Regions from separate parts of the Homo sapiens genome. Here region 1 is linked to region 2. The links come from fine-mapping of genetic effects on gene expression. A gene starts in region 2. The other region holds a variant in brackets. All regions are shown on one strand. Distances are from middle to middle.

Region 1 (15,882 bases), 830 kb after region 2:
AAATAAAAAAAAGGAAGAAATGGGCCAGGCGTGGTGGCTCACACTTGTAATCCCAGCACTTTGGGAGGCCGAGGCAGGAGGATCACCTAAGGTCAAGAGTTCGAGACCAGCCTGGCCAACATGGTGAAACCTTGTCTCTACTAAAAATACAAAAATTAGCCGGACATGGTGGCGGGCACCTGTAATCCCAACTACTTGGGAGACTGAGGCAGGAGAATAGCTTGAATCCAGGAGGCAGAGGTTGCAGTGAGCCAAGATCGTACCACAGCACTCCAGCCTGGGTAACAGAGTGAGACTCCGCCTCAAAAAAAAAAAAAACAAAAAAACCCACAAAATCACGAAAGTAGGTGATGAAGTCAGGAAACTCAGAAGTGTTATTTAAGCTTAGGAAATCAGGAGGGCTTCCTGGAGGAGATGATATTGGAGGTGAGAGAATCAAAAGTTGAGATGGAGCTGGCCAGGTGGATACCTGGAGCAAGAGCACTCCAGGCAGAAGGCACAGCCCGTGCAAAGGCCCTGGGGCAGGACTGCGCCTGGGGTGTTGGAGGAACAGCGAAGAGGCCTGTGTGGCTGGAGTGGAGTGAGCAATGGGAGAGAAGGAGGAGGGAGGTCAGGGCAGGGACAGGCGTGCAGGGCCTGTGGGCCTTGGAGAGAACTTGGGCTTTGACCCCCAAGGGAGATGGTTGCCATGGAGGGTCTCCATAAACCTCTTCCTCCTGAGTCTCTGCGACTGTAGCTCCCACCACCTCATGTGGAGAGAACCTCAAAAGGAGACCTTTGATGCTCTCCGGGAAGATGAGATGATCCTCACCCCCGACGTAGCCCTGGCCATGGCTCCTCCTTCTTGAGCAAGTCCCAGCCTGGTCCCAGGTGGCTCAACTCACTGCTGCCCAGAACCCCAGCATGGCTGCCTCATCCTCAGCAGAATCAAGTCCCCACATCCCCACACTTGTCAGGCTTCTGCCCCACACATGAAGAGCTCCAACCAAAACCATTTAGGTCTGCCCCTCCCACCCCTATCGTTGTCTCCACCATCTCCCACCTGCCAGGGTTGGGGTGGGGGCTCCGGGAGAGAAGCCACGTGCCCTTGGTTTCCCCATCCAAGGCATGGCCACATCCGTCCCTGAAGGAGTTAAGGGTACAGGAACCGTAGTGGCCATCACTGTATCTGAAATTCCAGCATTAGGGCTCCATCCCTGCAGACCTTGTAGAAATCACTAGTGGAGTTGCTTATTCACTCAACAAACACCGACCCAGTGCCCACTTTCAGATAAGTCTAAACCAGGTGCAGCCCCAGCCCTGGGCTGACTGCAGCCGAGTCCCGGACCTGACCTGATCCTAACCATGGACTGAACCCAAATCCTGGCTGAGCTTGGACTGAATCTCAGACCCTGGGTTGAGCCAGGGTCAACCAGGGTCAGCCCCAACCGCAGACTGAGCTCCAGACTTGGACTAACCCTGCCTGAGCCCTGCTGACCCTGGCCTGAGCCCTAATATCGACAGAGCCCCAACCCCAGGCTGAGCCCCAATCCCAGCCCGAGCCCTAATATCGACAGAGCCCCAACCCCAGGCTGAGCCCCAATCCCAGCCCGAGCCCTAATATCGACAGAGCCCCAACCCCAGGCTGAGCCCCAATCCCAGCCCGAGCCCTAATATCGACAGAGCCCCAACCCCAGGCTGAGCCCCAATCCCAGCCCGAGCCCTAATATCGACAGAGCCCCAACCCCAGGCTGAGCCCCAATCCCAGCCCGAGCCCTAATATCGACAGAGCCCCAACCCCAGGCTGAGCCCCAATCCCAGCCCGAGCCCTAATATCGACAGAGCCCCAACCCCAGGCTGAGACCCAATCCCAGCCCGAGCCCTAATATCGACAGAGCCCCAACCCCAGGCTGAGACCCAATCCCAGCCCGAGCCCTAATATCGACAGAGCCCCAACCCCAGGCTGAGCCCCAATCCCAGCCTGAGCCCTAATATCAACAGAGCCCCAACCCCAGGCTGAGCCCCAATCCCAGCCTGAGCCCTGACTCTCGGCTGAGACTGTAGACACTGCCTGACTCTGAGTGTCAGATTCTTTTACCGCCCCTGGAGGAGGCTGAATCCCTCCCAGCTCGGCTACCTCTAAATCCTAAAGCCCACCCGGTAGCCTCAGCTGCACTGACCCACGCTGGCTCAGCCAGATCCAGAAGGTGGGAGGGTCTTGCCCCCCTTGCTCCCCTCAGAGACCCCAGGACTGGAAGTTTCCCAGTGGCCCAGCAGTGAGAGTGAGCGGGTTAAGGCCCCGGCTACAGTGGGTGGGCCTCAAATGCTCTAGCCTGGGAGGCCCTGCCAGGCGCTCCATCTCCTGCCCAGCGGGGGCCGCATTAGCCGCTCAAAACCCATTCGGGGAAATTAGAGCAGAGGCCTCTGCGACAATCACGGGTCATTCTCGTCTCCTGTTCCCAGGCTCTCCCGCAGCGATGACAGCCCAGCAATGGGGCTGGGGGGTGGGGACACAGGGAGATTGGGGGATCCCAGCCGGCCGGCTCAGGCTGAAGCCTTCTCCAAGTCAGCCAGGGAAAGAAAACTGTAATCACTGCGGGCTTTAAAGACATCACTTCTGTGCTCCAGTGCTTTCCATAGCTTCCAGCTGACAAAGATGTCCAAATGGTTCAATCCAACAAGCAACAGTGAGGTCATGGCAGCACCAGGGGAGAAGCCCATTCTGCCAGCTCTCCATCTTTCTGCCCACAGTGTGTGCATTTTACGAATGTCCTCCAGCCTCGGCAGGTCAGGAGGCAAAGTAGGTCAGGTTTACATTTAATTCAGAAATGAGGTGGACTTCAGGAATGGTTTGATCCAGCATTTTCAAGTGGTCTTCAAGAATCAAGGTTCAGCAGTACGCGGTGCCTCATGCCTGTAATCCCAGCACTTTGGGAGGCCAAGGCAGGTAGATCACCTGAGGTCAAAAGTTCAAGACCAGCCTAGCCAACATGGCAAAACCCCATCTCTACTAAAAATACAAAAATTAGCTGGGTGTGAGGGTGCTTGCTTGTCATCCCAGCTACTCAGGAGGCTGAGGCAGGAGAATCACTTGAACCCGGGAGACGGAGGTTGCAATGAGCCGAGATCACACCACTACACTCCAGCCTGGGTGACAGAGCAAGACTTTGTCTCAAAAAAAAAAAATAAAAAAATTAATTAAATAAATAATAAAAATTAGCTGGGCATGGTGGCAGGTGTCTGTAATCCCAGTCACTTGGGAGGCTGAGGCAGGAGAATCACTTTAACCCAGGAGGCAGAGGTTGCAGTGAGCAGAGATCGCACCATTGCACTCAAGGTTCAGCAGGGCTTGGTGGCTCATACCTGTAATCCCAGCACTGTGGGAGGCCATGACAGGAGGATTCCTTGAGCCCAGGAGTTCAAGATCAGCCTGGGCAATAGAGTGAGACCTCGTCTCTATAAAAACAACTTTGTTTAATATTAGCTGAGCGTGGTGGCACACGCCTGTAGCCCCAGCTACTTGGGAGGCTGAGGTGGGAGGATTGCTTGAGGCCGGGAAGTGGAGGTTGCAGTGAGACAAGACTGCACCACTGCACACCAGCCTGGGCAACAGAGTGAGACCCAGTCTCAAAAATAAATAAGTAAGTAAAAATAAGAATCAAGGTTCATTCTATCCTGAGAGATCTACTCCCAGCCTCTTCCCCAACATTCTGCAAGTTTTCCACCTCCAGGTTTTCACTCAAACAAGAGCCCTCACCTGACTGGCTGTTCCATGCCCACAGGTAGCACAGCAGTGCAGTTCCTGAAAAGGGGGTCAGGAAGCTGGCTACTACCCAAGCCAGGAATTCTCTGCCCTTTTCCAGGGGTAAGTTTCCCCACCTAGAAAATGAGAGGATTGGAATCCAGGATTCTTAGAATGTCTTTCAGCTCTAAGTCTCGGTGAATCAGAAGCCCCCACAGTGGGTAGTTTTCGGGGATTAGTCCTCTGGTAGCCATTTTAGTCAACAGGCAATATCAGTGCGCATTTGCTATCAGCTGTGCTAGGGCCTCTGGACTGTGATAACCTCTAATCTTCACCTCCTGTGTGAAGTAGGTACTGCTCCATTTTACAGAATAAGAAACTGAGGCTCAGGCAGATCCAGCCTCCTGCTAAACATCACACAGCTGTTTGGTGGTAGAGCCAAAACGTAGCCCCCCATGCTACAGCACCTCTAGTCCTCCTGGCCAGGATTTCTGGGTCCAAATCTTCAATTCTGGCAATGAGAGGGAAGGTGGAAGGAGGCTTTTTTCTCCCATGAATGCATCTCCAGGTTTGTCATGAAGGCAGTGGACTCAGTTTACTTCCTGGAACTCCCCCTTCCCCTGCAGGGTCTCCCACATTGCTGACAAATGCACCTCCTTCTTTCACAGATGTGGAAACTAGGGCTCATAAAGGAAAAGTGAGTCTCCTAAAGTCTTACTGCCAGGCAATGCAATGGTGTCTTCATCAGTCTGGATGGACTGCTACAGTAACAAAGAACCTCTTGGAGCCAGCCTCCAAGATGGCCCCAATGAGCCTTTGCCTCCTGGTATTCATGACCTTGTGGGGTCTCCTCCTCCACTGAATCGGGGCTGACTCGTGAGGCATATAAAAGTGACAGTGAGTGACTTCTAAGGCTGAGCCTTATATAAAAGGCACTTCAACTTCCTCCTTGGATCAACCCCTCTAGGAATGAGCCAGCAGCCATGTTGGAAGAACACTCAAGCAGTGCTATGGAAAATTCTGCATACAAAAGTGAAGGACAGGCTGGGTGTAGTGGCTCACACCTGTAATCCTAGCACTTTAGGAGGCCAAGGCAGATGGATCACTTGAGGCCAGAAGTTCAAGACCAGCCTGGCCAACATGGTGAAACCCTGTCTCTACTAAAAATACAAAAATTAGCCAGCTGTGGTGGCAAGCACCTGTAATCCCAGGTACTCCAGAGGCTGAGGCAGGAGAATTGCTTGAACCTGGGAGGTGGAGGTTGCAGTGAGCCAAGATGGTGACACTGCACTCCAGCCTCGGTAACATATTGAGAAAGAGGAAAGAAAGAAAGAGAGAGAGAGAGAAAGAAAGAAAGTAAGAAAGGAAGAGAGAAAGAGGGAGAGAGAGAGAGAAAGAGGGAGAGAGCGAGAGAAAGGGAGAAAGAAAGAGAAAGAAAGAGAGAAAGAGGGAGAGGGAGAGAAAGGGAGAGAGAAAGGGAAGGAGAAAGAAAGAGAAAGAAAGAAAGAGAGAAAGGGAGAAAGAGAGAAAGGAACTCCTACCCACAGCCATGTGGATGAGCTTGGAAGCAGCTCTTCCAGCCCCAGTCAAGCCTTCAGATGATACAGCCCCAGTCAACATCTTGACTGCAACCTTGTAAGAACTTCGGAGTCAGAATTGCCCAGCTAAGCTGCTCCCAAATTCCTGTCCCATAAAACCATGAGAGGTAATAAATTATTATTTTAAGCCACTAATTTTTCAGGTAATTTATACAACCACAGTAACTGGAACAAGCTCCTAAATCTTAGTGGCTCTAAAACAACCAAGGTTTATTTGTCATCCACACTATATGCCCAATACAGGTTGGCAGGGGGCCTCTGTGTCTGCCTCACTCAGGCATTGAGACAGATGGAGGAAACATCAGTGGTCTCTAAGAGAGGGGAAAGAATATGAAGAATGGGATACTGGATTTTAAAGGCTTTTACTGAAGGGGATTAACATGACTTCTACTCACATTTTATTGGCCAAAGCAAGTCATGAAGCCACACCTCACTTCAAACGGCAGCTATTGGTGGGGTGCAGTGATTTACACCTTTAATCCCAGCACTTTGGGAGGCTGGGACAGGAGGATCACTGGAAGCCAGGGGTTTGAAACCATCCTGGGCAACATAGGGAGACTCCATCTTTACAAAAATAATTTTTAAAAATAGCTGGGCATGATGCATACCTGTAGTTCTAGATACTTGGGAAGCTGAGGTGGGAGGATCACCTGAACCCAGGAGGTTGAGGCTGCAGTGAGCCATAATCACACCACTACACCCCAGCCTGGGCAACAGAGTGAGACCCTGTCTCAAATTAATACAAAAAAAAAAAAAAAAAAAAAGACAGGTGTATGATTTTGCTGGGGCTACCAAAACAAAATACCACGAAGTGAGTGGCTCAAACAACAGAAATGTATTTCCTCATAGTTTTGGGGTTTTTGTTGTTTGTTTGAGATGAAGTCGTGCTCTGTTGCCCAGGCTGGAGTGCAGTGGCACAATCTCGGCTCACTGCAACCTCCACCTCCCGGGTTCAAGCGATTCTCCTGACTCAGCCTCCTGAGTAGCTGGGAATACAGGTGCCCACCACCACGCCCAGCTAATTTTTTGTTTTTGTATTTTTAGTAGAGATGGAGTTTCACCATACTGGCCAGGCTGGTCTTGAACTCCTGACCTCGTGATTCACCCACTCGGCTTCCCAAAGTGCTGGGATTACAGGCGTGAGCCACCATGCTTGGCCTATTTCCTCATAGTTCTATAGGCCAGAAATTCAAGACCTACATGTAAGCAGGGCCATGCTCCCTCCAAAGGCTCTAGGGAAGGATCCATTCCGTGTTTTTCTGCTGGCTTCTGCTAGTTCCTTGGCTTGAGGTGGCATAACTTTAATCTTCACATGGCGTCCTCCATGTGAATCTTAGAATTTCTGCCTTCAACTTCTCTTCCCTTCTGCCTATTACATAGCATTTCCCCAGCTCCAAGCTTCCCCATATCCCTCCAAAGTCCAGAAAATCAAATAAGTTATTCTTTATCTCAGGAACTTCCAAATTTCACCTTTTCCCTCCTCTTGTCTGTTATTTGCCATGTCTAATAGAGCAAGGTTGCAATGTCACCTTTCACCAGAAGAGGCTGCTCACACACACACACCGTCTATCTTCCAGCTAAACACCATCCCTGCCTTGGTTTGTAGTAGATGAAGCTTGAAATTGCTTATGATCACTAGGAAGTCAGGGACACCTCAGCATAGAAACTCCCACAGTCATGGGCTTAACAAGGCTGGGCCCATAACAGTTGTTGGTTGTAAACCTGGGAGGCAGGTGGTATTGACCCCATTTTATAAATGGGAAGTCTGAGAAGCCCAGCGTTGCAGACCCACAGTCTTTTGGCTTCCATATGTGACCTGGCCCTATATTCTTTACTCATCTTTTATCACCTACCTGATATCTAATCCCTCAAATCCTGTCCTGTCTGCCTTCAAAACCTATCCAGAATCTGGCCACTCCTCTCTCTTCCTCTGCCTTCACCCTGGTCTGACATCTCATCGTCACTTGCCTGGAACCACACAGTCCCCTCTTCCCTGGTGCCCAGCTCCCGACTTCACCCCCCACAGTCTATCCTCCTCTCAGCAGCCACCAGGGGCACCTGTGAGCACCTGAGTCAGATCCTGTCCCTCCTCTGCCCATAGCCCTCCAAGAAGCATTCCCAGAGGAGATAATAC[A/G]TGGTCTAAGAATTCAATTCCACCAAATTAGCTGGAAAAGAAAGGCAGAGATTTGCTCCTGCACACCAGCCTCTCCCCACCTTCAGGACTTTACCCACACAGCCTCCTCCTTTGTCCAGAGAACCCTTCCCTTCCTCCTCACCTGGCCTACTTTGCCCAGTAAATTGGGGCAGAGCTGGGTGGGTATTCTGCATGCCCTTTCCAGGCAAAGTTGTTCCAGTTCCTCATGTCCTGCAGGGTGAGACATTGAGCTCCTTTCTCTTTGCTTGCTCATCCCAGAATCTCAGTTTTCTCATCTGATAAATGAAAATCAAAGAGACAATCTCTTGGGTCTGGCTCAAAGAGTATTCTGAATGCAAGTTAGTATAACCATCATTATTATTTATGACCAGAAGCTCCATAGTAACATTTGTCAAGACTCTTTTAAGCCACCGGCCTCAGTTCCAATCCCACTTCCTCAGAGAAGCTCCCTTGATATGGACTAAATGTTTGTGTCCCCCCCATCCAAATTCATAAATTAAAACCCTAACACCCCTCCCCAACTATGGGATGGTAATTGAAGGAAGGCTCATGATGGGATTAGTGCCCTTACAAGAAGAGACACCAGAGAGTTTGCTCTGTTTCTGCCATATGAGAACACAGCAAGAAGGTGGCCATCTGCAAGTCAGGAAGAGAGCCCTCACCAGGAGCTAAATTGGCTGGCGCTTTGCTCTGGGACTTCCCTGCCTCCAGAACTGTGAGAAAATGATCTTTTGTTTAAGCCACGCAGCCTGTGGTACAGACAGTCCCTGATTTACAGTAGTTCAACATAATTTTTTTATTTTTTGAGGGTGACAAAAGCAATATACATTTAGTATGCTACTCTAAGTCAAGTAGCAGTGAGGTGGAGGCTGGGCATGGTGGCTCACGCCTATAATCCCAGCACTTTGGGAGGCCAAGGCGGGCAGATCATGAGGTCAGGAGTTCGAGACCAGCCTGGCCAACATGGTGAAACCCCGTCTCTACTAAAAATACAAAAATTAGCCAGGCATGGTGGCACGCACCTGTAATCTCAGCTGCTCCGGAGGCTGAGGCAGGAGAATTGCTTGAACCCAGGAGGTGGAGGTTGTAGTGAGTTGAGATCGTGCCATTGTACTCCCGCCTGGGTGACAAGAGCAAGACTCTGTCTCAAAAAAAAAAAAAGACAATGAAGTGGCTTCCAGGTAAACCCATTATAAGCTGAAAATATTGTAAATCTAAAACGTATTTTGACTTATGATATTTTCAACTTTTGATGGGTTTATTGGGTAATGACCCCATTGTAAGTTAAGGAGCATCTTTGTTTAGTGATGGCAGCTGGAGCAGACTTCACTATCCTCACAGCCCCACCCCAACCAATCCCCGTTTTATCCCCTTCATTAACTTCTTTTTTTTTTTTTTTTTTTTTTTGAGACACAGAGTCTCTGTCACTCAGGCTGGAGTGCAGTGACGCAATCTTGGCTCACTGCAACCTCCACCTTCCTGGTTCAGGTGATTCTCGTGCCTCAGCCTCCCAAGCATCTGGGACTACAGATGCATGCCACCACGCCCAGCTAAGTTTTGTATTTTTAATAGAGACGGGGTTTCACCATGTTGGCCACGCTGGTCTCAAACTCCTGACCTCAAGTGATCCACCCACCTCGGCCTCCCAAAGTGCTGGGATTACAGGTGTGAGCCACTGCACCCGGCCTCCTTCACTGACTTCTGAATCCACCTTTGGTTTACCTACCTGCTCAACTCTCTACCTTGACTAGAAGTTAAACCACATGAGGGCAGGTGTTTTGTCCATCTTATTGGTGGCTGGATCCCCAATACCTAGAATGGTGCTTGATATACAGTAAGTGCTCAATATCTACTGGATGAATAGGCCCAGGACTCGCACCAGAGTCTCTGCACTGTCACAGAGGGCCTTGTCCCCCTGGACTTTGGAATAAACAGGACACAGGGTTCAGAAGCGAAGATGGGGGAAGAGATCAGGGTTCTCCAAACTGCCTTTCATGAATTGCCCTAAGGCAGAGTTTCCTATCTTTGCCACTGTGGGCATTTGAGGCTGAATCATTCTCTGGGCTGCGACCATCCTGGGCACTGCAGGGTGCTGAGCAGCACCCCTGGCCTTCACCCACTCCATGCCAGGAGCACCCCCCAAGTCATGACAACCAAAAATGTCCGCAGACATTGCCAGATGCCCCCAGAGCATGCAAAATCATCCCTGGTCAAGGCCACTGCCCTAAAGAAATGACTTCTTGGCTGGACACAGTGGCTCACACTTGTAATACCAGCACTTTGGGAGGCTGACGTAGGAGGATCACTTGAGGTTAGGAGTTGGAGACCACCCTGGCCTCCAACTCTATATGGCAACATAGCAAGAAGCCATCTCTATAAAAGAAAGAAAGAAAGAAATGGCTCGGGCCAGGCATGGTGGCTCATGCCTGTAATCCCAGCACTTTGGGAGGCCGAGGCAAGTGGATCACCTGAGGTCAGGAGTTCGAGACCAGCCTGGCCAATATGGTGAAACCCCATCTCTACTAAAAACACAAAAATTAGCCAGGCGTGGTGGCGGGCGCCTGTAATCCCAGCTGCTCAGGAGGCTGAGGCACGAGAATTGCTTGAACCTGGGAAGCAGAGATTGCAGTGAGCGAGTCGAGATCACGCCACTGTACTCCAGCCTAGGTGACAGAGCAAGACTCCATCTCAAAAAAATAAATAAATAAAAGAAATGGCTTGTTGCCCACCTTTCTGCCTCCCCGCCTGCCAAATACATCCACAGCACTTGTGGGAAGATCCGTCTGAGACCATGGATTCCAGGCTGGGCTGATGCCGGCACGCAGGAGGCCTCGCGCAAGACGGCTGGTCCCAGCCAGACCCAGAAAAATTAGATTAACTCGGAGAAGCTCGCCAAGACGATCCGTCAGGCCGCCTGAAGGACAGCGTATTGATTTCCACGTTGCGAAAAAATTAAATGATATCCCTTTTTGTTATTTAAAACGCTGCTTAAGCAATTCCCTAATGGAACGGCCCGGCCCGGGTCCAGGAACTCCCTGGCCCGGCCGGCAGCGTCTCCGGATCGGGTGGAGGACGAGGGAATGCGGACACGGCCCTGTCTTCCCCTCCGGGTAATTGATGACCTCAGGAGAACAGCTCCATTTTGCCTGCATGCAACGTGCACAGTTCTGATTTATTAAAGACATAACAATTATGAAAATAGCTGATTTATAATCAACTCGCCCGGACCCTAATTGATTTCCAGGGTGAAATTTAGAAGGGGAGGTATTGACACCTTGAGGACAGGGCGAGCCACCGGCCTTGGGGATGGACTGTGATGGGTGGCTGGGGTGGAGGGGGGAGGACGGGACAGGGAGACAGCGGCCTGAATCTAGTTGGGTTCTTTGTTGCTTCATGAGATGGGCTTTCTGCCCAGCGTTGCTGGAGAGGGTCAAGCCGTAATGGTTGCCACCATTTCCCAGTGACAGAGGCGGTCCCTGGCTCCAGCAGAGGCAACTGTGCCACATTGCAGACAAATCAGGCTGGGCCCAGTGGCTCATGCCTGGAATCCCAGCACTTTGGAAGGCCAAGGCAGGAGGATTGCTTGAGGCCAGGGTTCGAGACCAGCCTGGGCAACACAGCAAGACTCCGGTCTCTATTAAAATAAATAAAGTAATAATTTTTTTTTTTGAGATGGAGTGTCGCTCTGTCGCCCAGGCTGAAGTGCAGTGGCGCCATCTCGGCTCACTGCAACCTCCGCCTCCCAGGTTCACGCCATTCCCCCACCTCAGCCTCCCGAGTAGCTGGGACTACAGGGGCCTGCCACCAAGCCTGGCTAATTTTTTTGTATTTTTAGTAGAGACGGGGTTCCACCGTGTTAGCCAGGATGGTCCCAATCTCCTGACCTTGTGATCCACCCGCCTCAGCCTCCCAAGGTGCTGGGATTACAGGCGTGAGCCACCGTGCCCGGCCAAGTAATAATTTAAAAAAAAAAAAACAAATCTTCCAGCACTCTGTTGGGAAATCTCAACATTGTCCTCATAGCAGCCAGGACAACCTGATACTGTTGATACAAATGAGTCTGCCCCACAATGTCCAGAACCTTCTATCTCTCCAGAGCCTCATGCTCCGGTTGCCAGATGTGGCCAATAAAAATACAGGTTGCCAGCCAGGCACGGTGGCTCATGCCTGTAATCCCAGCACTTTGGGAGGCTGAGGCAGGTGGATCACTTGAGGTCAGAGGTCAGGAGTTCAAGACCAGCCGGGCCAACATGGTGAAACCCTGCCTTTACTAAAAATACAAAAATTAGCCGGGCATGGTGGTGTGTGCTTGTAATCCCAGCTGCTCAGGAGGCTGAGGCAGGAGAATTGCTTAAACCCAGGAGGTGGAGGTTGCATTGAGCCAAGATCGCACCATTGCACACCAGCCTGGGCGACAGAGTGAGACTCCGTCTGAAAGAAAAAAAAAAAAATACAGAATGCCGGGTTCAATCTGAGTTTCAGCCAAACAACAAGTGAGTTTTTAGTATAAGTATAGCCCATGCAATATTTGGGGTATACTCAGACTTTTTTTTTTTTTTTCTTAAAAAAGTATTTTCTGTTTATTTGAAATTCAAGTTGAACTGGGTGTCCTGTATCTTACCTCACAATCCTTCTGTGACGGGCAGGACTCCAGCTCCCAACAGCCCGTAAGGGACGAGACTGACTCCCATTCACCTGATGGGAAAATTGAGGCAAGAGGGGTCGGGCACGGTGGCTCACGCCTGTAATCCCAGCTCTTAGGGAGGCTGAGGCAGGTGGATCACAAGGTCAGGAGATCAAGACCATCCTGGCTAACACAGTGAAAACACGTCTTTACTAAAAATACAAAAAAAAAAAAAAATTAGCCAGGCTTGGTGGCGGGCACCTGTAGTCCCAGCTACTCGGGAGGCTGAGGCAGGAAAATGGCGTGAACCTGGGAGGTAGAACTTGCAGTGAGCCAAGGTTGCGCCACTGCACTCCAGCCTGGGCAACAGAGCGAGACTCCATCTCAAAAAAAAAAAAAAAAGGAAAAAGAAAAAAAAAAAGAAACAGAAACAGGGCTTTGTGTCTCTGGACCTCGGTCTCCACACTGCACAATGGGTGTGATGGTGGCCCCTCCATCACGCGGTGCTCAGGCTGAGGAAATGATTTGTGGATACCCACCAGCCCATGAGCACTCGATTCTTGGGTCTCCCCAGTGCCAACAAAGAGAGAGACAGAGGCAAAGACAGAGAGACAAAGAGAGAGACAAGAGAGAGGGATCTGGGCTGGTTCCGGAAGGGCGAGCCCCCTTTGCGGATGGGGTGGCCCAGGAGGGTGGGAATTCAGTTTGCAAATCAGAAGGTTCCAGACTTTTCTGTAAGGCAGGGAGACAGCTAAAGAGGAGCCTGCAGGCCGGGCGCGGTGGCTCATGCCTGTAATCCCGACACATTGAGATTGGGATCTGACCAAGGTGGGTGGATCATTTGAAGTCAGGAGTTTGAGACTAACCCGACCAACATGGTGAAAACCCATCTCTACTAAAAATGCAAAAAATTAGCCAGGCGTGGTGGTGCATGCCTGTAATCCCAGCTATTCAGGAGGCTGAAGCAGGAGAATCTCTTGAGCCTGGGAGGTGGAGGTTGCAGTGAGCTGACATCATGCCACTGCACTCCAGCCTGGGCGACAGAGCGAGACTCCGTCTCAAAAATAAATAAATAAATAAATAAATAAATAAATAAATAAAGGGGAGCCTGTAGGATGCAGAGACCCAGAGCACCTACCCACAGCTGCCAACGCCCAGTCCCCAAGATGGCCCTGCTGAGCAGTTTTAAGTATTGTTAAAGATAAAATAATTTTTCCTTCTCTGAGCCATCTGATTGACGTGGTAATGGGCCCCGCAGACAGGGAGAAGGTCAGGTTGCAATGTAATCAGTTTTTTCTAGAGTGACGTATAATCATGATAGCAGTGCACCTGGAAAAGGGGGAGGGACCTGCGACAGTCCCCAGACCCTCTGAGCTCTCCGTTGCAGGACACGACAGGGCCACAAGGACGGTGGGACCCAGGGAGGCTTCCTGGAGGAGGCGTAGCTGCAGCTGGGATTGGAAGGACATGGCATCACAAATGCAAAGTTGTGGAGGTTGGAACTGTCTCTTTGTGCCTCTTCCTGATCCCACTAGATCTTACTCTCCAGGGGAGAATCCAATTCCCACCTTTCCCAGCGTCTAGAGACATCCGCATCCCTTGGCTCAGGGCCCCCTCCTCCACCTTCACAGCCAGCAGTGGCTGGTCTAGTCCTTCTTTGGTTTTTTTGTTTGTTTGTTTGTTTGAGACAGAGTCTCACCCTGTAAGGCAGGAAGACAGCTAAAGAGGAGCCTGCAGGCCGGGCGCGGTGGCTCATGCCTGTAATCCCGACACTTTGAGATTGGGATCCGGCCGAGGTGGGTGGATCATTTGAAGTCAGGAGTTTGAGACCAGCCCGACTAACATGGTGAAACCCCGTCTCTACTAAAAATGCAAAAAATTAGCCGGACGTGGTGGTACATGTCTGTAATCCCAGCTATTCAGGAGGCTGAAGCAGGAGAATCTCTTGAACCTGAGAGGTGGAGGTGGAGCCCAGGCTGGAGTGCAGTGGCGCCATCTCTGCTAACTGCAACCTCTGCCTCCCGGGTTCAAGTGATTCTCCTGCCTCAGCCTCCCGAGTAGCTGAGATTACAGGCGCCCGTCACCACACCTGGCTAATTTTTGTATTTTTAGTAGAGATGGGGTTTCACCATGTTGGCCAGGCTGGCCTTGAACTCCTGACCTCAAGTGATCCTCCCGCCTCGGCCTCCCAAAATGCTGGGATTACAGGCGTGAGCTACCGCGCCCGGCCAGGCCTGGTCCTTCCTGTGTTGCTATCTGATTCTCTCTCTTCTGCCTCTGTCTTCCACTTTAAAAGACCCTTGCGATGATTTGGGCCCACCAGGTACTCCAGAATAATATCTTTCTCTCTCATCACTAGCTGCCTGGCAACCTTCATTCCACCTGCAACCCTAATTCTCCTTTGCCATTGAATCACATTCATGGGGTCTAAGATTAGGATGTGGACATCTTTGGGGGATCATTATTCTGCCAACTACAACAGCTGACTTGAACCACCAGGCAGACAGCACCACGTCCTACAGCTTGTTCTGTGGCCCAGGCTGGAGTGTAGTGGTGCGATCTTGGCTCACTGCCGCCTCCACCTCCCGGGTTCAAGCGATTATCCTGTCTCAGCCTCCCAAGTAGCCGCGATTACAGGCGTGTGTTACCATGCCTGGCCAATTTTTGCATTTTTAGTAGAGACAGGGTTTCACCATGTTGGCCAGGCTGGTCTTGAACTCCTGACCTCAAGTGATCCACCCGCCTTGGCCTCCCAAAGTGCTGGGATTATAGGTGTGAGCCACCGCGCCCGGCCACTAATTAGGTTTTTTGTTTTTGTTTTTTGTTTTTTCTGTTTTTTTGTTTTTTGTTTTTTGTTTTTGAGACAGAGTCTCACTCTGTCGCCCAGGCTGGAGTGCAGTGGTGCGATGTCGGCTCACTGCAAGCTCCGCCTCCCGGGTTCATGCCATTCTCCTGCCTCACCCTCCTGAGTAACCGGAACTACAGGCATGAGCCACTGCGCCTGGCCCGGTTTTTTTGTATTTTTTGTAGACAGGGTTTCACCATGTTGCCCAGGCTGGTCTTGAACTCCTGAGCTCAAGCGATCCTCCCAACTTGGCCTCCCAAAGTGCTGAGATTATGCACTTTCATGCATTGGGCATTGATTACACCCTGAGCGTGGAGTCATACACTTGACCCTCTTTGCCTCCCCAGCTCCTCCTCACAGGCTCCACCAGGGAAGAAAATACCACTGTACCTAATGCACTGATCAAAACATTGAGACTCAGTGACTGAACAACTTGCCAATGATCCCTCTTGCTCCATAAATTCCGAAGTTGGAATTTAAATGTATGCACATGTGATCGCAAAGCCCGTGGATCTTTTTTTTGTATTTGTATTTGTATTTTTGTATTTGTAACTACTTGTGATTTGTATAATTACTATTATGGTTGTATGGCTACTATCCTTCACTGAGCACCTATTTGTTGATCAGTCTCCAGAATTCACGCCCTAGCTGACTCCTCTGGAAAAGCATTTTACAAAGGAGAGAGCTCAGAGAGGTTGAAGGGCGTGTCCAAGGTCACCCAGTGGGCGGCAGAGCTAGAATTTGAACCCAAGTTCCCCTGGCTGCCGTCCACTGCCTTCCCTGCCTCTGGGAAGAAACCAGGGCTTTGCGGATGATCTACAGAGGCCACTCATCGAGACCCTGCTCGGGTTATTTGGCGGTTTCAGGGGCTCAGCACGCTTTTTTTTTCTTTTCGGCAGAGGCTGGTGGCGGTCCGGGAAGATGAGCCAAGTGCTGAGT
Region 2 (10,898 bases):
ATTCATATATATGAATATATATTCATATATTCATATATATGAATATATATTCATATATTCATATATACTTATATATATATTCATATATTCATATATACTTATATATATTCATATATTCATATATATGAATATATATTCATATATATGAATATATATATTAATATATTCATATATATATACTTATATTCATATATTCATATATATACTTATATTCATATATTCATATATATACTTATATTCATATATTCATATATATACTTATATATATTCATATATTCATATATATACTTATATATATTCATATATTCACATATATACTTATATATATTCATATATTCATATATATACTTATATATATATATATTTAAAGATATTTTAAGATTATTTTTTAAAGATAGCCGGACATGGTGGTGGGCGCCTGTAATCCCAGCTACCTGGGAGGCTGGGGCAGGAGAATCTTTTGAACCCAGGAGGCATAGGTTACGGTGAGCTGAGATCATGCCACTGCACTCCAGCCTGGGTCCCAGAGCAAGACTCCGTCTTAATAAATAAAGAAATAAACAAACAAATCTCTTCCTCCATGCAGCTGTCTGTTCTGGACCCATGAGACACTGTCTCCATAAACTGGACAAGCACAGAGCAGCCCTGTTCCTTAGGTGAGTGACACAGCACGGTTCCACTGATGGAGTCCCCATTACCTTACCACGGTGTTCAACTTTCAGCCTGTCACCATGAAGGATTCGATGCATGGCCGAGCTCTGCGGCTAACAAGGAATTTCAGTTGTGAGCTGTTGGGAGTCTGCTACGGAACCCAGGCAGGTTGTGCGTATGCGTGTGCATGCGTGTGTGTGTTCTTTCCAGAAAGGTTTCGGCCCCAAGTTTCACCCACCCACCACAAATCATCACACTAAAAGGATTAAAAGAAAAAACAAGGCTGGCCCCAGTACTTTGGGAGGCAGATCACTTTGAGCTCAGGAGTTTAAAAACTGCCTGGGCAAGATGGCAAGACACCGTCCCTATAAAAAATACAAAAACATTAGCTGGGCATGATGGCTTGTGCCTGTAGTCCCACTTACTTGGGAGGCTGAGGCCAGAGGATGACTTGAGCCATGGAAGCAGAGGTTGCAGTGAGCTGAGATTACACCACTGCACTCCAGCCTGGGTGACAGAGCGAAACCCTGTGTCCAAAAAAAAAAAAAAAAAAAGGAAAGAAAGAAAAAGAAAAGAAAACAAGGCTGGACACAGTGGCTCTTGTAATCTCAACACTTTGGGAGGCCAAGGTGGGAGGATCACTTGAGCCCAGGAGGTCGAGGTTGCAGTAAGCTGTGATTATACCACTGCATTCCTGCCTGGGTGACAGAGGAGCAAACAACAAATTATTCCACGGATCCCACTAATCATGATATGAAATCTGTCAGTCCTAAAGGACAAGATTCGATCACACAAATATTAGATTATTTATTTATTTTTTTTTTTAAATTTGAGACAAGGTCTTGCTCTGTCGCCCAGGCTGAAATGCAGTGGTAGTTTCAGCTCCCTACAGCCTTAACCTCCTGGGCTCAAATGATCCTCCCACTCAGCCTCCCAAGTAGCTGGGATTACAAGGCATGCAACACTCACCCAGCTATTATTATTATTATTTTTTTGTAGTGATGGGGTTTATGCCATGTTGCTGTGGCTAGTCTCAAACTCCTGTGCTCAAATGATTCACCCACCTTGGCCTCCCAAAGTGCTGGCATTATAGGTGTGAGCCACTGTGCCTGGCCTCCTTTTTGTGTGTGTGTGTGTCTGTGTGAGACAGGGTCTCACTCTGTTGCCCAGGCTGGAGAAACCTCCTCAGCTCACTGCAACCTCCTCCTCCTCCAGGGCTCAAGTGATCCTCCCACTGCAGCCTCCTGAGTAGCTGGGACTACAGGCGTGCACCATTGCGCTGGGCTAATTCTTCAATTTTTAGTCGAGATGGGGTTTCACCATATCGCCCAGGCTGGTCTCAAACTCCTGGGTTCAAGTGATCTGCTGGCCTCAGCCTCCCAAAGTATTGCGATTACAGGCGTGAGCCACCACACATGGCCTTTTTTTTTTTGAGGCTGATCTCAAATGCCTGGGCTCAAGCCAACCTCTCGCCTTGGCCTCCTGATTAGCTGCGATTACAGGTGGAGGCCACTGTGCCTGAGTCCCCTAAATATCATTTTGTACTGGAATTTTTTTCTTTTTTATACTTCCTTTTTGATGTTGTTGTTGTTGTTTTGGAGACTAGGGTCTTACTCTGTCACCCAGGCTGGAGTGCAGTGGCATGATCACAGCTCACTGCAGCCTCGACCTCCCGAGACTAAAGTGATCCTCCAGCCTCAACCTCCTGAGTAGCTGGGACTGCAGGCATGCGCCACTACACCCAGCTAATTTTTGTTTTTGTAGAGCCAGGGTTTCACACCATGTTGCCCAGGCTGGTCTCCAACTCCTGGACTGATGCAATCCACCCATCTTGGCATCCAAAAGTGCTGGGATTACAGGTGTGAGCCACCACGCCCGGCCTCGTATGTTTTTTTAAGCCCCCCCCCCCCTTTTTTTTTTTTTAAAAAAAGTGGAAATTTCCAAAGGATGGAGCAAGTGGATAAGCAGGGCAGTCCATCCCTGCTGTTAGAAATGGAGCCCACATGCCCCGCACGTTGCAAACAGGGTCTGCTGGGTGTCTTGGCTGCTGGGACGATGTGAGGAGGGCCTTGGCCTGTCGTGGTCCTCAGGGTGCAGAGTCTCAGGTAGAAAAGGAGGTGTTGGCTGGGGGAGGATCCAGCATGGAGGATGCTGTAATTTGGGTTGTGCTGAGGCTCTGGGGAGCCCGGGGGGCCAGTCCAGGCCACACACGACAGCCAGAGCTGAGTCCCTGGAGACCGGTAGACCTTCCTAGACCAGCGAGGACAGGACTACCCTCATCAGGTGGCTGGGGCCATCCTCTGTGGGTCAGTCTGATCAGGGCATGGTGCCCAGGCAGCCCCAGCACCCCAGGAGTCCCCACAGATGGCAGTGCCCTTCTGCCATGTCTTGTCTGTTGCCCCCCGGAAGCCCCTCCCACTCAGGAGCCCCAGGACTTAGAAGGAACCTCAGGCAGGTGACATGTTTCCAACTGGAATCGTTTAATGTGTCTACTTCTTCCACGCATAATTATAAAAGAATAAGAATCGACAAAAATATTTTCTTTCCATAATATGTAGAGGTGGTTTGTTTCTTTTTTTTTTTTTTCTTTTCTTTTTACTTTTTTTTTTGCCCGCCCCTGGCAGAGCTCTTGGCGGGGAGGGAAGGGGAGAGGGAAATATAACCCTGAGGTGGGGATGGTTCAGCTCCCAACCCCGGAACCCCTGGTGTGTACGGGTCAGGCAGACACATGTGGCTGGGCGGCTGGGCTGGGGAGGGGACAGCCGCCACTGACCAGCAGAGCGTGGAAGTTCGGTGCGTTTCAGTGCCTGCCTGAAAGCTTGGGGACAGGAGGGCTGTCCACAGGTGGTGCCCCCCGCGGGCCCTGGCCGCTTCTCCTGTGGGGCCCGCATGACCCTCTGCTCGGGCTTGGGAAGAAATGGAGCCTACCAGGTGCTGGGTTGCAACCCCGCTGCCCGGTGTGGACCCCAAGTCTAGATTTAGGCACCCCTTGCTTTCTGTCTTTTATTTTTTATTTATTTTGAGACAGAGTTTCGCTCTTGTTGCCCAGGCTGGAGTGCAATGGTGCGATCTTGGCTCACCGCAACCTCCACCTCCCGGGTTCAAGCGATTCTCCTGCCTCAGCCTCCCGAGTAGCTGGGATTATAGGCACGCGCCACCACACCCGGCTAATTTTTTGTATTTTTAGTAGAGACGGGGTTTCCCCATGTTGGCCAGGCTGGTCTTGAACTCCCAACCTCAGGTGATCCGCCCGCCTCAGCCTCCCAAAGTGCTGGGATTACAGACGTGAGCCACCGCGCCCGGCCTGTCTTTTAAATAATTATGAAAAATATCCCCCCAAACAAAACACAAACATCAAGTTGGGGAGGCTGGCCGGGGGGGACAGGCAATTGCATGCTTGGGTGCTGGGGACGGTGGCTGGCCGGGCCAGGGGACTGAGAGGTCACAGGGAGCCCCAGGCGGAAGGCAGCCCGCTCCTCTGAGTCTCTTCTGGCCTCTCCAGTGCCCATCAGCGTGTGACCTCCTCCTCCCAGAAGGCGGGGAGAGGAGGGGCTGGCCCGAGACCACCATCTCTCTGTCTCGGCAACCAAGAAGCAGCGGACATAAAACCCAAGAGCGTTTAAAAAAGGATAAAAGGCGTCGGGGCGGTGAAGGCAGCGGCTCCTCGGGGCTGGCCAGCGCTGGGCGGGACAAAGTGCCTCACTGGGGCCCGCGGGCCACTCAGTCCCTCCCGCCTGGTTCCCCGCGGAGGCTGCAGCCACTTGTGCTGTGATGTGGCGGCTCCCGGTGGGCAGGCTCAGAGGTATTCCTGTAGAAAGTGCAGCAACGTGACTTCATAGTGCTCGCCCGACTCGGGGCAGCGAATACTGTGTCTCTCGTTGGGGTAGATCTGCGGGGAGACAGGAGGCAGGGCTGGGGGGCGTGGCCGGACCACCCCCGTGTCCTAGGCTCCTCCCTTATTCTGGCTCAGGGCATCCGGGAAGGCGCAGGTGCTCTGAGGCCCAGTGATCTGGGTTTGAATCCCACCTCGGCTGTTGACTTGCAGTGTAACTCTGGGCCTCTCTAAAAAATGGGGTGAATCCGGACCTCACAGTCTTTGGGAGGATTTGGTAAGACAAAGTTTACAAAACGCCTTGCGGTGTGCACGCGCTTGCACAGAGGAAAGATTTAGGAAGAAACCGTTTGCCTCTTTCCCCCAAACCGGCTGACGGGCGACCAACTCATCTCTGTGGAGGTGGCTGAGGCTTCAAGCCTCAGGGACATCTGGTGCCCTGGTCTCGAGCCATTTCCACTTTACCAAAAGGCATGTGACTAGCTCTGGGCCTTAGGACAGCTGCCTGTGAGGATTTGTGAAGCATTTTCTGGGTCCTCTTAGCGCCCAAGGGGGATCAAGCCAAGAGGCAGGCAGTAACATGGAACTCCCCAGGCTCCTGAGACCTGGACCAGCCAACGCCAGGCCTGGGGGTGGATCCACACGGGGATGCAGGTCCTGCCTCTGGCCACGAAGGAGGGCTCTCGAGGCACTGACGGACAACCCCTATAGCTCCCCACTGCCCCCTAGGGGTTGGTAGGACCAAGGCATGAAAATAACCCTACGTTCTCCACAAAGAACCCCGGGGCTGGCCGGCAGCAGGGGCAGGTGGCCCATCTACGCCACCTCCTGCCAGTGAGATGGGTTTCTGAATCATCCCCTCCTCTCCAGGCTCCTGGTCCCCACTGTTGCCCATCACCCTGGGAATGCACCAAGCCACCCACTGGTTTCCCCTCCTCTACTCTTGCCTTCTTTAATCCATCCCTGGATGAATCACGAGTTTGATGACACCGTCCCCAGCCTAGACCTCTGCAAGGACTTGCCAGTCTGACATCAAGACCAGCTTCCAGGTCCTGCTGCCCCAGGCACTTCAAGGGCCCACTCCTTCCCCAGCCCGGGCAGTGGCACTCCCTGGGGCAGACTCTGCTGCCCTTGACACCAGCCATATGCACATGTTGTGCCCATGCCTTTATGCCACTCTGGGTCCCAGCTGCCTGGTTACTTTTTCCTCTTGGCTAAGAGGGCAGATAGAGGGTCTGTCTGGCTCCCCAATGAGCTTCCAGACCAAGCCCAAGGCCCGGCATGTGACAAATGTGATTTGTGTATAAAGAGGGCCTGGGGCCGCCAGCTGCCTGGCCCAGATGTTTTGGGGTCTTTGAAACAGAAGGAGAGGTGCACTCTATCTGTCCCACACAATGCCATGTTCCCACCCCACAGCCTATCTCATCTCACGTTCTACTTCCTGTGGGGAGGCAGTGAGACAGGACCCTGGGCCCACCCTGTGTGCTGAATGCTTTTCTTTTTTCTTTCTTTTCTTTTTTTTTTTTCTTTTGAGACGGAGTCTCCCTCTGCCGCCCAGGCTGGAGTGCAGTGGCACAATCTCGGTTCACTGGAACCTCCGCCTCCCAGGTTCAAGCGATTCTCCTGCCTCAGCCTCCCGAGTAGCTGGGACTACAGGCGTGTGCCACCACACTCGGCTAATTTTTGTATTTTTAGTAGAGACGGAGCTTTGCCATGTTAGCCAGGCTGGTCTCAAACTCCTGGCCTCAAGTGATCCACCCGCCTCAGCCTCCCAAAGTGCTGGGGTTACAGGCGTGAGCCACCACGCCCGGCCTGAATGCTTTTCTGAAGACCTTGTTTGGCCCCAGCAGCCTTCAAGGAGGCCGAGTTATCATGACCGTTTCAAAGACGGAGAAACGAGGTGCAAGGGTGAATGCTGTCCCAGCTACCTGGCCCCTGGGAAGGCAGTGGGCTCGGGTCTCAGGCTGGGAAGAGACATCTGAAGTTCCATTCCAGCCCTGCCTGATATCACTCCCTGGGCTGCTTGGGATGTGGGGTGTCGGTGGGGGGCACCGCCAAGAGATCAGCTCATCACCGCACAAGGTGGCTCTGCCTCCCTCCTGCTCTGCGGCCCCATTTCCCTGCTCTGTTGAAAGGCAACAGGACGCTCCCCACAGGACAGAGCATGCCGAGGCGCCCAGGAAGCAGAAATTGTCTGCAGTCCACAGGTAATAAAACCTGGCCCTCTTGCCTCCAAGATACCTCCTGAATCTCCCGCCGGTACAACTATGGACCACGTCCCACTGTCCCCCACAGGCCATCCACAAAGCAGCCAGAGAAATGTGGGTCAAATGGCAAGCCGCCCAACTCTATGCTCTGCTCACAAGCCCGAGTCACCTCCCACCACCCTCAGTTGAAAATCCAGCCGAAGCCCCGCCCCCGCTGAGGCCCCACCCCTCTATAGCAGAAGCTCCACCCTGCTTACTGAGGGCCCCCCCTCCTCTACAGCAGAAGCCCCACCCTCCTCACCGCTGAGGCGCTGCTCCCACACCGAGCCCCACCCTCTCCACTACCGAGGCCCTTCCCCACACCGAGGCCAACCATTTACTGCGGAAGCCCCACCCACCGTAACACTGAAGCCCCGTCCCTCTGCAGAAGTCCCACCCTCCTCGCCATTGAGGCCCCGCCCATAACCATGCCCACCCCTTAGCGCAGAAGCCCCGCCCACCTAGACTGAGCCCCACGTTGCTGCCAAGGCTCCACCCACTCCCCCACTCTCCTCCCGCTCGGTCCCCCAAGCCTGGCTGGCTCCACTCACTCTAGCACCCTTCACTGCTGCCTCCTCAGGGAATGCTTGGCCCCAGCGCCTTAGGAAGGAGCCTGCTAGGGCCTTCAGCACTCAGCGGTTTCTTCTACGCAATTTCTCAGTTTCAAATAAAGCCCGTCTGCGGGGCAATTTCGGTAAGGGTTCCTCCCTCCATTAGGCCCGGAGCAGGGGTGGGTGTGGCAGCCCCCGATCCCGTGCTTCCAGCACCGAAGGCAGGCGGAACCCTGAGCTGTCAAGACAGGACTGATACATCAATGGCCCTGGGAGCTGGGAGGGCGGGGACACAGGGCTGTGGGGTGGGGGGCTGGGAGCCCCAGATCCCCCAGGGAGCCCCTGGTCACAGTGGGAAGCCACCCCGCCTCGTCCCACCCCCCACTCCCAGGGATCTGTCGGCTCGCGGAGGGGCCGAAGCCCCCAACAGCCACCCACCTGGAGCTGGTAAGGTTTCCCTGCTCGGATCAGTTGGGAGACGAGGAAGTTTGTGTGGAAAAAGTGCACGTTTTCGTCCAGGAAGCCGTGGAGGATAAGCAAGCGGTTGGGCCTGGAAAACAGATGGGGAAGGGTCTGAGGCCAGGGATTGTCCGTGGGGTAGGAGGGGAGCAGATCACAAGGTCAGGAGTTTGAGACCAGCCTGGCCAACATGGTGAAACCCTGTCTCTACTAAAAATATATTTAAAAAAAATTAGCCAGGCATGGTGGCAGGTGCCTGAAATCGCAGCTACTTGGGAGGCTGAGGCAGGAGAACTGCTTGAGCCTCAGAGGCAGAGGTTGCAGTGCGCTGAGATCGCGCCACTCACTCCAGCCTGGGCGACAGATGGAGACAGCATCTCAAAAAAAAAAAAAAAAAAAAGATCAGCTGAGTGTAGTGGTGCGCCTGTAAGTCCAGCTACTGTGCAGGCTGAGGCGGGAGGATCACTTGAGCCCAGGAGGTGGAGGCTACAGTGAGCTATGATCATACCACTGCACTCCAGCCTGGGTGACAGAGCAAGACCCCATCTCTAAATTAGAAAAACAAAAACAAAAACCCAGGCCGGGTGCAGTGCCTCATGCCTGTAATCCCAGTACTTTGGGAGGCCAAGCTGGGTGGATTGAGTCCAGTTGTTTGAGACCAGCCTGGGCAACATGGCAAAACCTCATCTCTACAAAAATATTTAAAAGTTAGCCAGGCGTGGTGGTGCACACCTGTGGTCCCAGCTGAGCCTGAGGCAGGAGGATCACCTAAACCCTGGGAGGGTGCAGTGAGCTATGATTAAAAAAAAAAAAAAAAAATGCTGAGCATGGTGGCTTACACCTGTAATCCCAGCACTTTGGGAGGCCAAGGCAGGTGGATCACTTGAGGCCAGGAGTTCAAGACCAGCCTGGGCAACATGGTGAAACCCCATCTCTATTAAAGATACAAAAATTAGCTGGGTGTGGTAGTGCATGCCTGTAATTCCAGCTACTGAGGAGGCTGAGGCACGAGAATTGCTTTAACCTGGGAGGTGGAGGTTGCAGTGAGCTGAGATTAAGCCACTGCACTCCAGCCGGGACCACAGAGTGAGACTCTCTCAACAAAACAAAACAAAAACCCACCTAGGTCTGCTGCTGTCTGTGGTCTGGAGTGTGGCATGGGCTACTGGTGAGGCCAACACGCAGCCTCACCAGAATCGGCTGCCCTAGCCCTTCCTGTCCGATACGGGAGCCAGTGGCCACACGTCGCCGTTGAAATTCCAGTTTACATTCATCCAAATTAACGGAACTTATAAACCCATTGAGACAGAGCACAGATCGGTGGCTGCCCCGGGACAGGGAGTGACTGCTAAGGAATGGGAACAGGGTTTGACGCTGGAGTGCTGGAAAGGTTCTGGAACCACTGCAAATGCACCGAGGGCTGCTTTAAGGTGACTGTTAGGTTCTGTGAATTTCACCACAATAAATTATTATTTTTTGAGACAGAGTCTCGCTCTGTTGCCCAGGCTGGAGTGCAGTGGTGCGATCTCAGCTCACTGCGACCTCACCCTTCCAGGTTCAAGCAATTCTCCTGCCTCGGCCTCCTTGAGTAGCCGGGATTACAGGTGTGTGTCACCACACCTGGCTAATTTTTATATTTTTAGTAGACATGGGGTTTCACCGTGTTGGCTAGGCTGGTCTTGAACTCCTGAAGCCACCGTTCCTGGCCTATTATTATTATTATTGTTTTGAGACAGTTTCTCTCTGTTGCCCAGGCTAGAGTGCAGTGGCACGATGTTCGCTCACTACCAACTCCACCTCCTGGGTTCAAGCGATTCTCCTGCCTCAGCCTTCCAAGTAGCTGGCATTACAGGCATGCACCACCATGCCCAGCTTATTTTTTGTATTTTTTTGTAGAGACGGGGTTTCACCATGTTGGCCAGGCTGGTCTCGAACTCCTACCTTAAGCAATCCTCCTGCCTTGGCCTCCCAAAGTGCCCAGGCAGACTTTTTTTTTTTTTTTTTTTTTTGAATTGGAGTCTGGCTCTGTCGCCCAGACTGTAGTGCAGTGGCGCACGATCTCGGCTCACTGCAAGCTCCGCCTCCCGGGTTCACGCCATTCTCCTGCCTCAGCCTCCCATATAGCTGGGACTACAGGCACCCGCCACCACACCCGGCTAATTTTTTGTATTTTTAGTAGAGACGGGGTTTCATCTTGTTAGCCAGGATGGTCTCAATCTCCTGACCTCACGATCCGCCCGCCTCAGCCTCCCAGAGTGCTGGGATTACAGGAGTGAGCCACCGCGCCCGGCCCATGCCCAGGCAGATTTTTAACCCCCTAGGTGACTGCATGGGATTCCGGGGAACATTTTCTGGAGACGTGCCAGAAAATGGGAACACTGTTTTCTCTCCATCAGAGAATAAGACCCATGTCAAAAGCATAAAATGGGACATCTGAGCTGGTCCCTGGCCCTGTGGACATCTATGTCCTGAAGCACAAGACAGAGGCTGTGATGGGGCCTCCAGCAGGATGCAGGGGAGTGGGGGAGGCTTGCCTGTGAAAAGCAGTGACTCGAATTCCCTCATCTTTCCCAGGGCAGGGCTGTGAGCCTCCTTCCCCAGACAAGCATCCCTGGGTGCCCCTTCCTGCAAGGTGCAGTGAGGAGGGAGGGTGGGCTGGAGGGGACTGTGAGGCACATGCAGGCAGACGCCACCACAGGAGCACAGCGGGGAGGCTCCACATGGCCTGAGGCTCCCTGGGCAGGGCCAGCTGGGGCAGGAGGGCACCCTCATAGAGACAGCTGGTGCCGGGGTGCAGGAGAAGCCCCGGGGAGGAGCGCAGGGCAGGGCAGTGGCCTTACTCATTGGGCAGCTTCTCCACGTGCAGGGCCACGGAACCCGCCTCATAGCCGTGCTGGTTGTTCTCAGGGACGTCCATGTAGCGCTCAGTGTACCCTGTGTCGTAGGCCATCCAGACGGTGACCGGGGCACCCGCGATGGCCACCTGAGGGACACAGCAGACAGATGGGGGCAGAGAGAGAGAGAGAAACAGGCGTCGGGTCCTACAGCCAGCATCAGCCGCTGTCCCGGGGCCGCCCTGGAGCCCGTGAGGAGCGCTCATGCACATGGGGCCGGCAAGGAAGGGGCCCTCAGACCGCGTGGCCCCCGTGGACGGTGCGT

Evidence for each region.
Region 1: its variant is fine-mapped to the expression of DPP9-AS1 in monocytes after R848 (Quach 2016, PIP 0.95).

Annotation. Positions count from the first base shown.
Region 1 is chr19:5,496,948-5,512,829 of GRCh38, forward strand. No RefSeq gene overlaps it. Among named protein-coding and RNA genes, the nearest start is that of ZNRF4, 49 kb to the left of the region's middle. RefSeq lists enhancers at 1,976-2,808, 11,127-11,296 and a cis regulatory region at 11,212. The variant A/G (reference allele first, on the strand shown) is at 7,454.
Region 2 is chr19:4,672,117-4,683,014 of GRCh38, forward strand. It overlaps DPP9-AS1 (DPP9 antisense RNA 1), which reads left to right and starts at 7,166. Exons shown (of 3, transcript NR_164163.1): 1 at 7,166-7,423; 2 at 10,685-10,898. DPP9 (dipeptidyl peptidase 9) reads right to left here. Exons shown (of 22, transcript NM_139159.5): 20 at 10,580-10,722; 21 at 7,719-7,830; 22 at 3,111-4,540. The coding sequence ends at 4,448. RefSeq lists enhancers at 3,855-4,815, 7,473-7,974.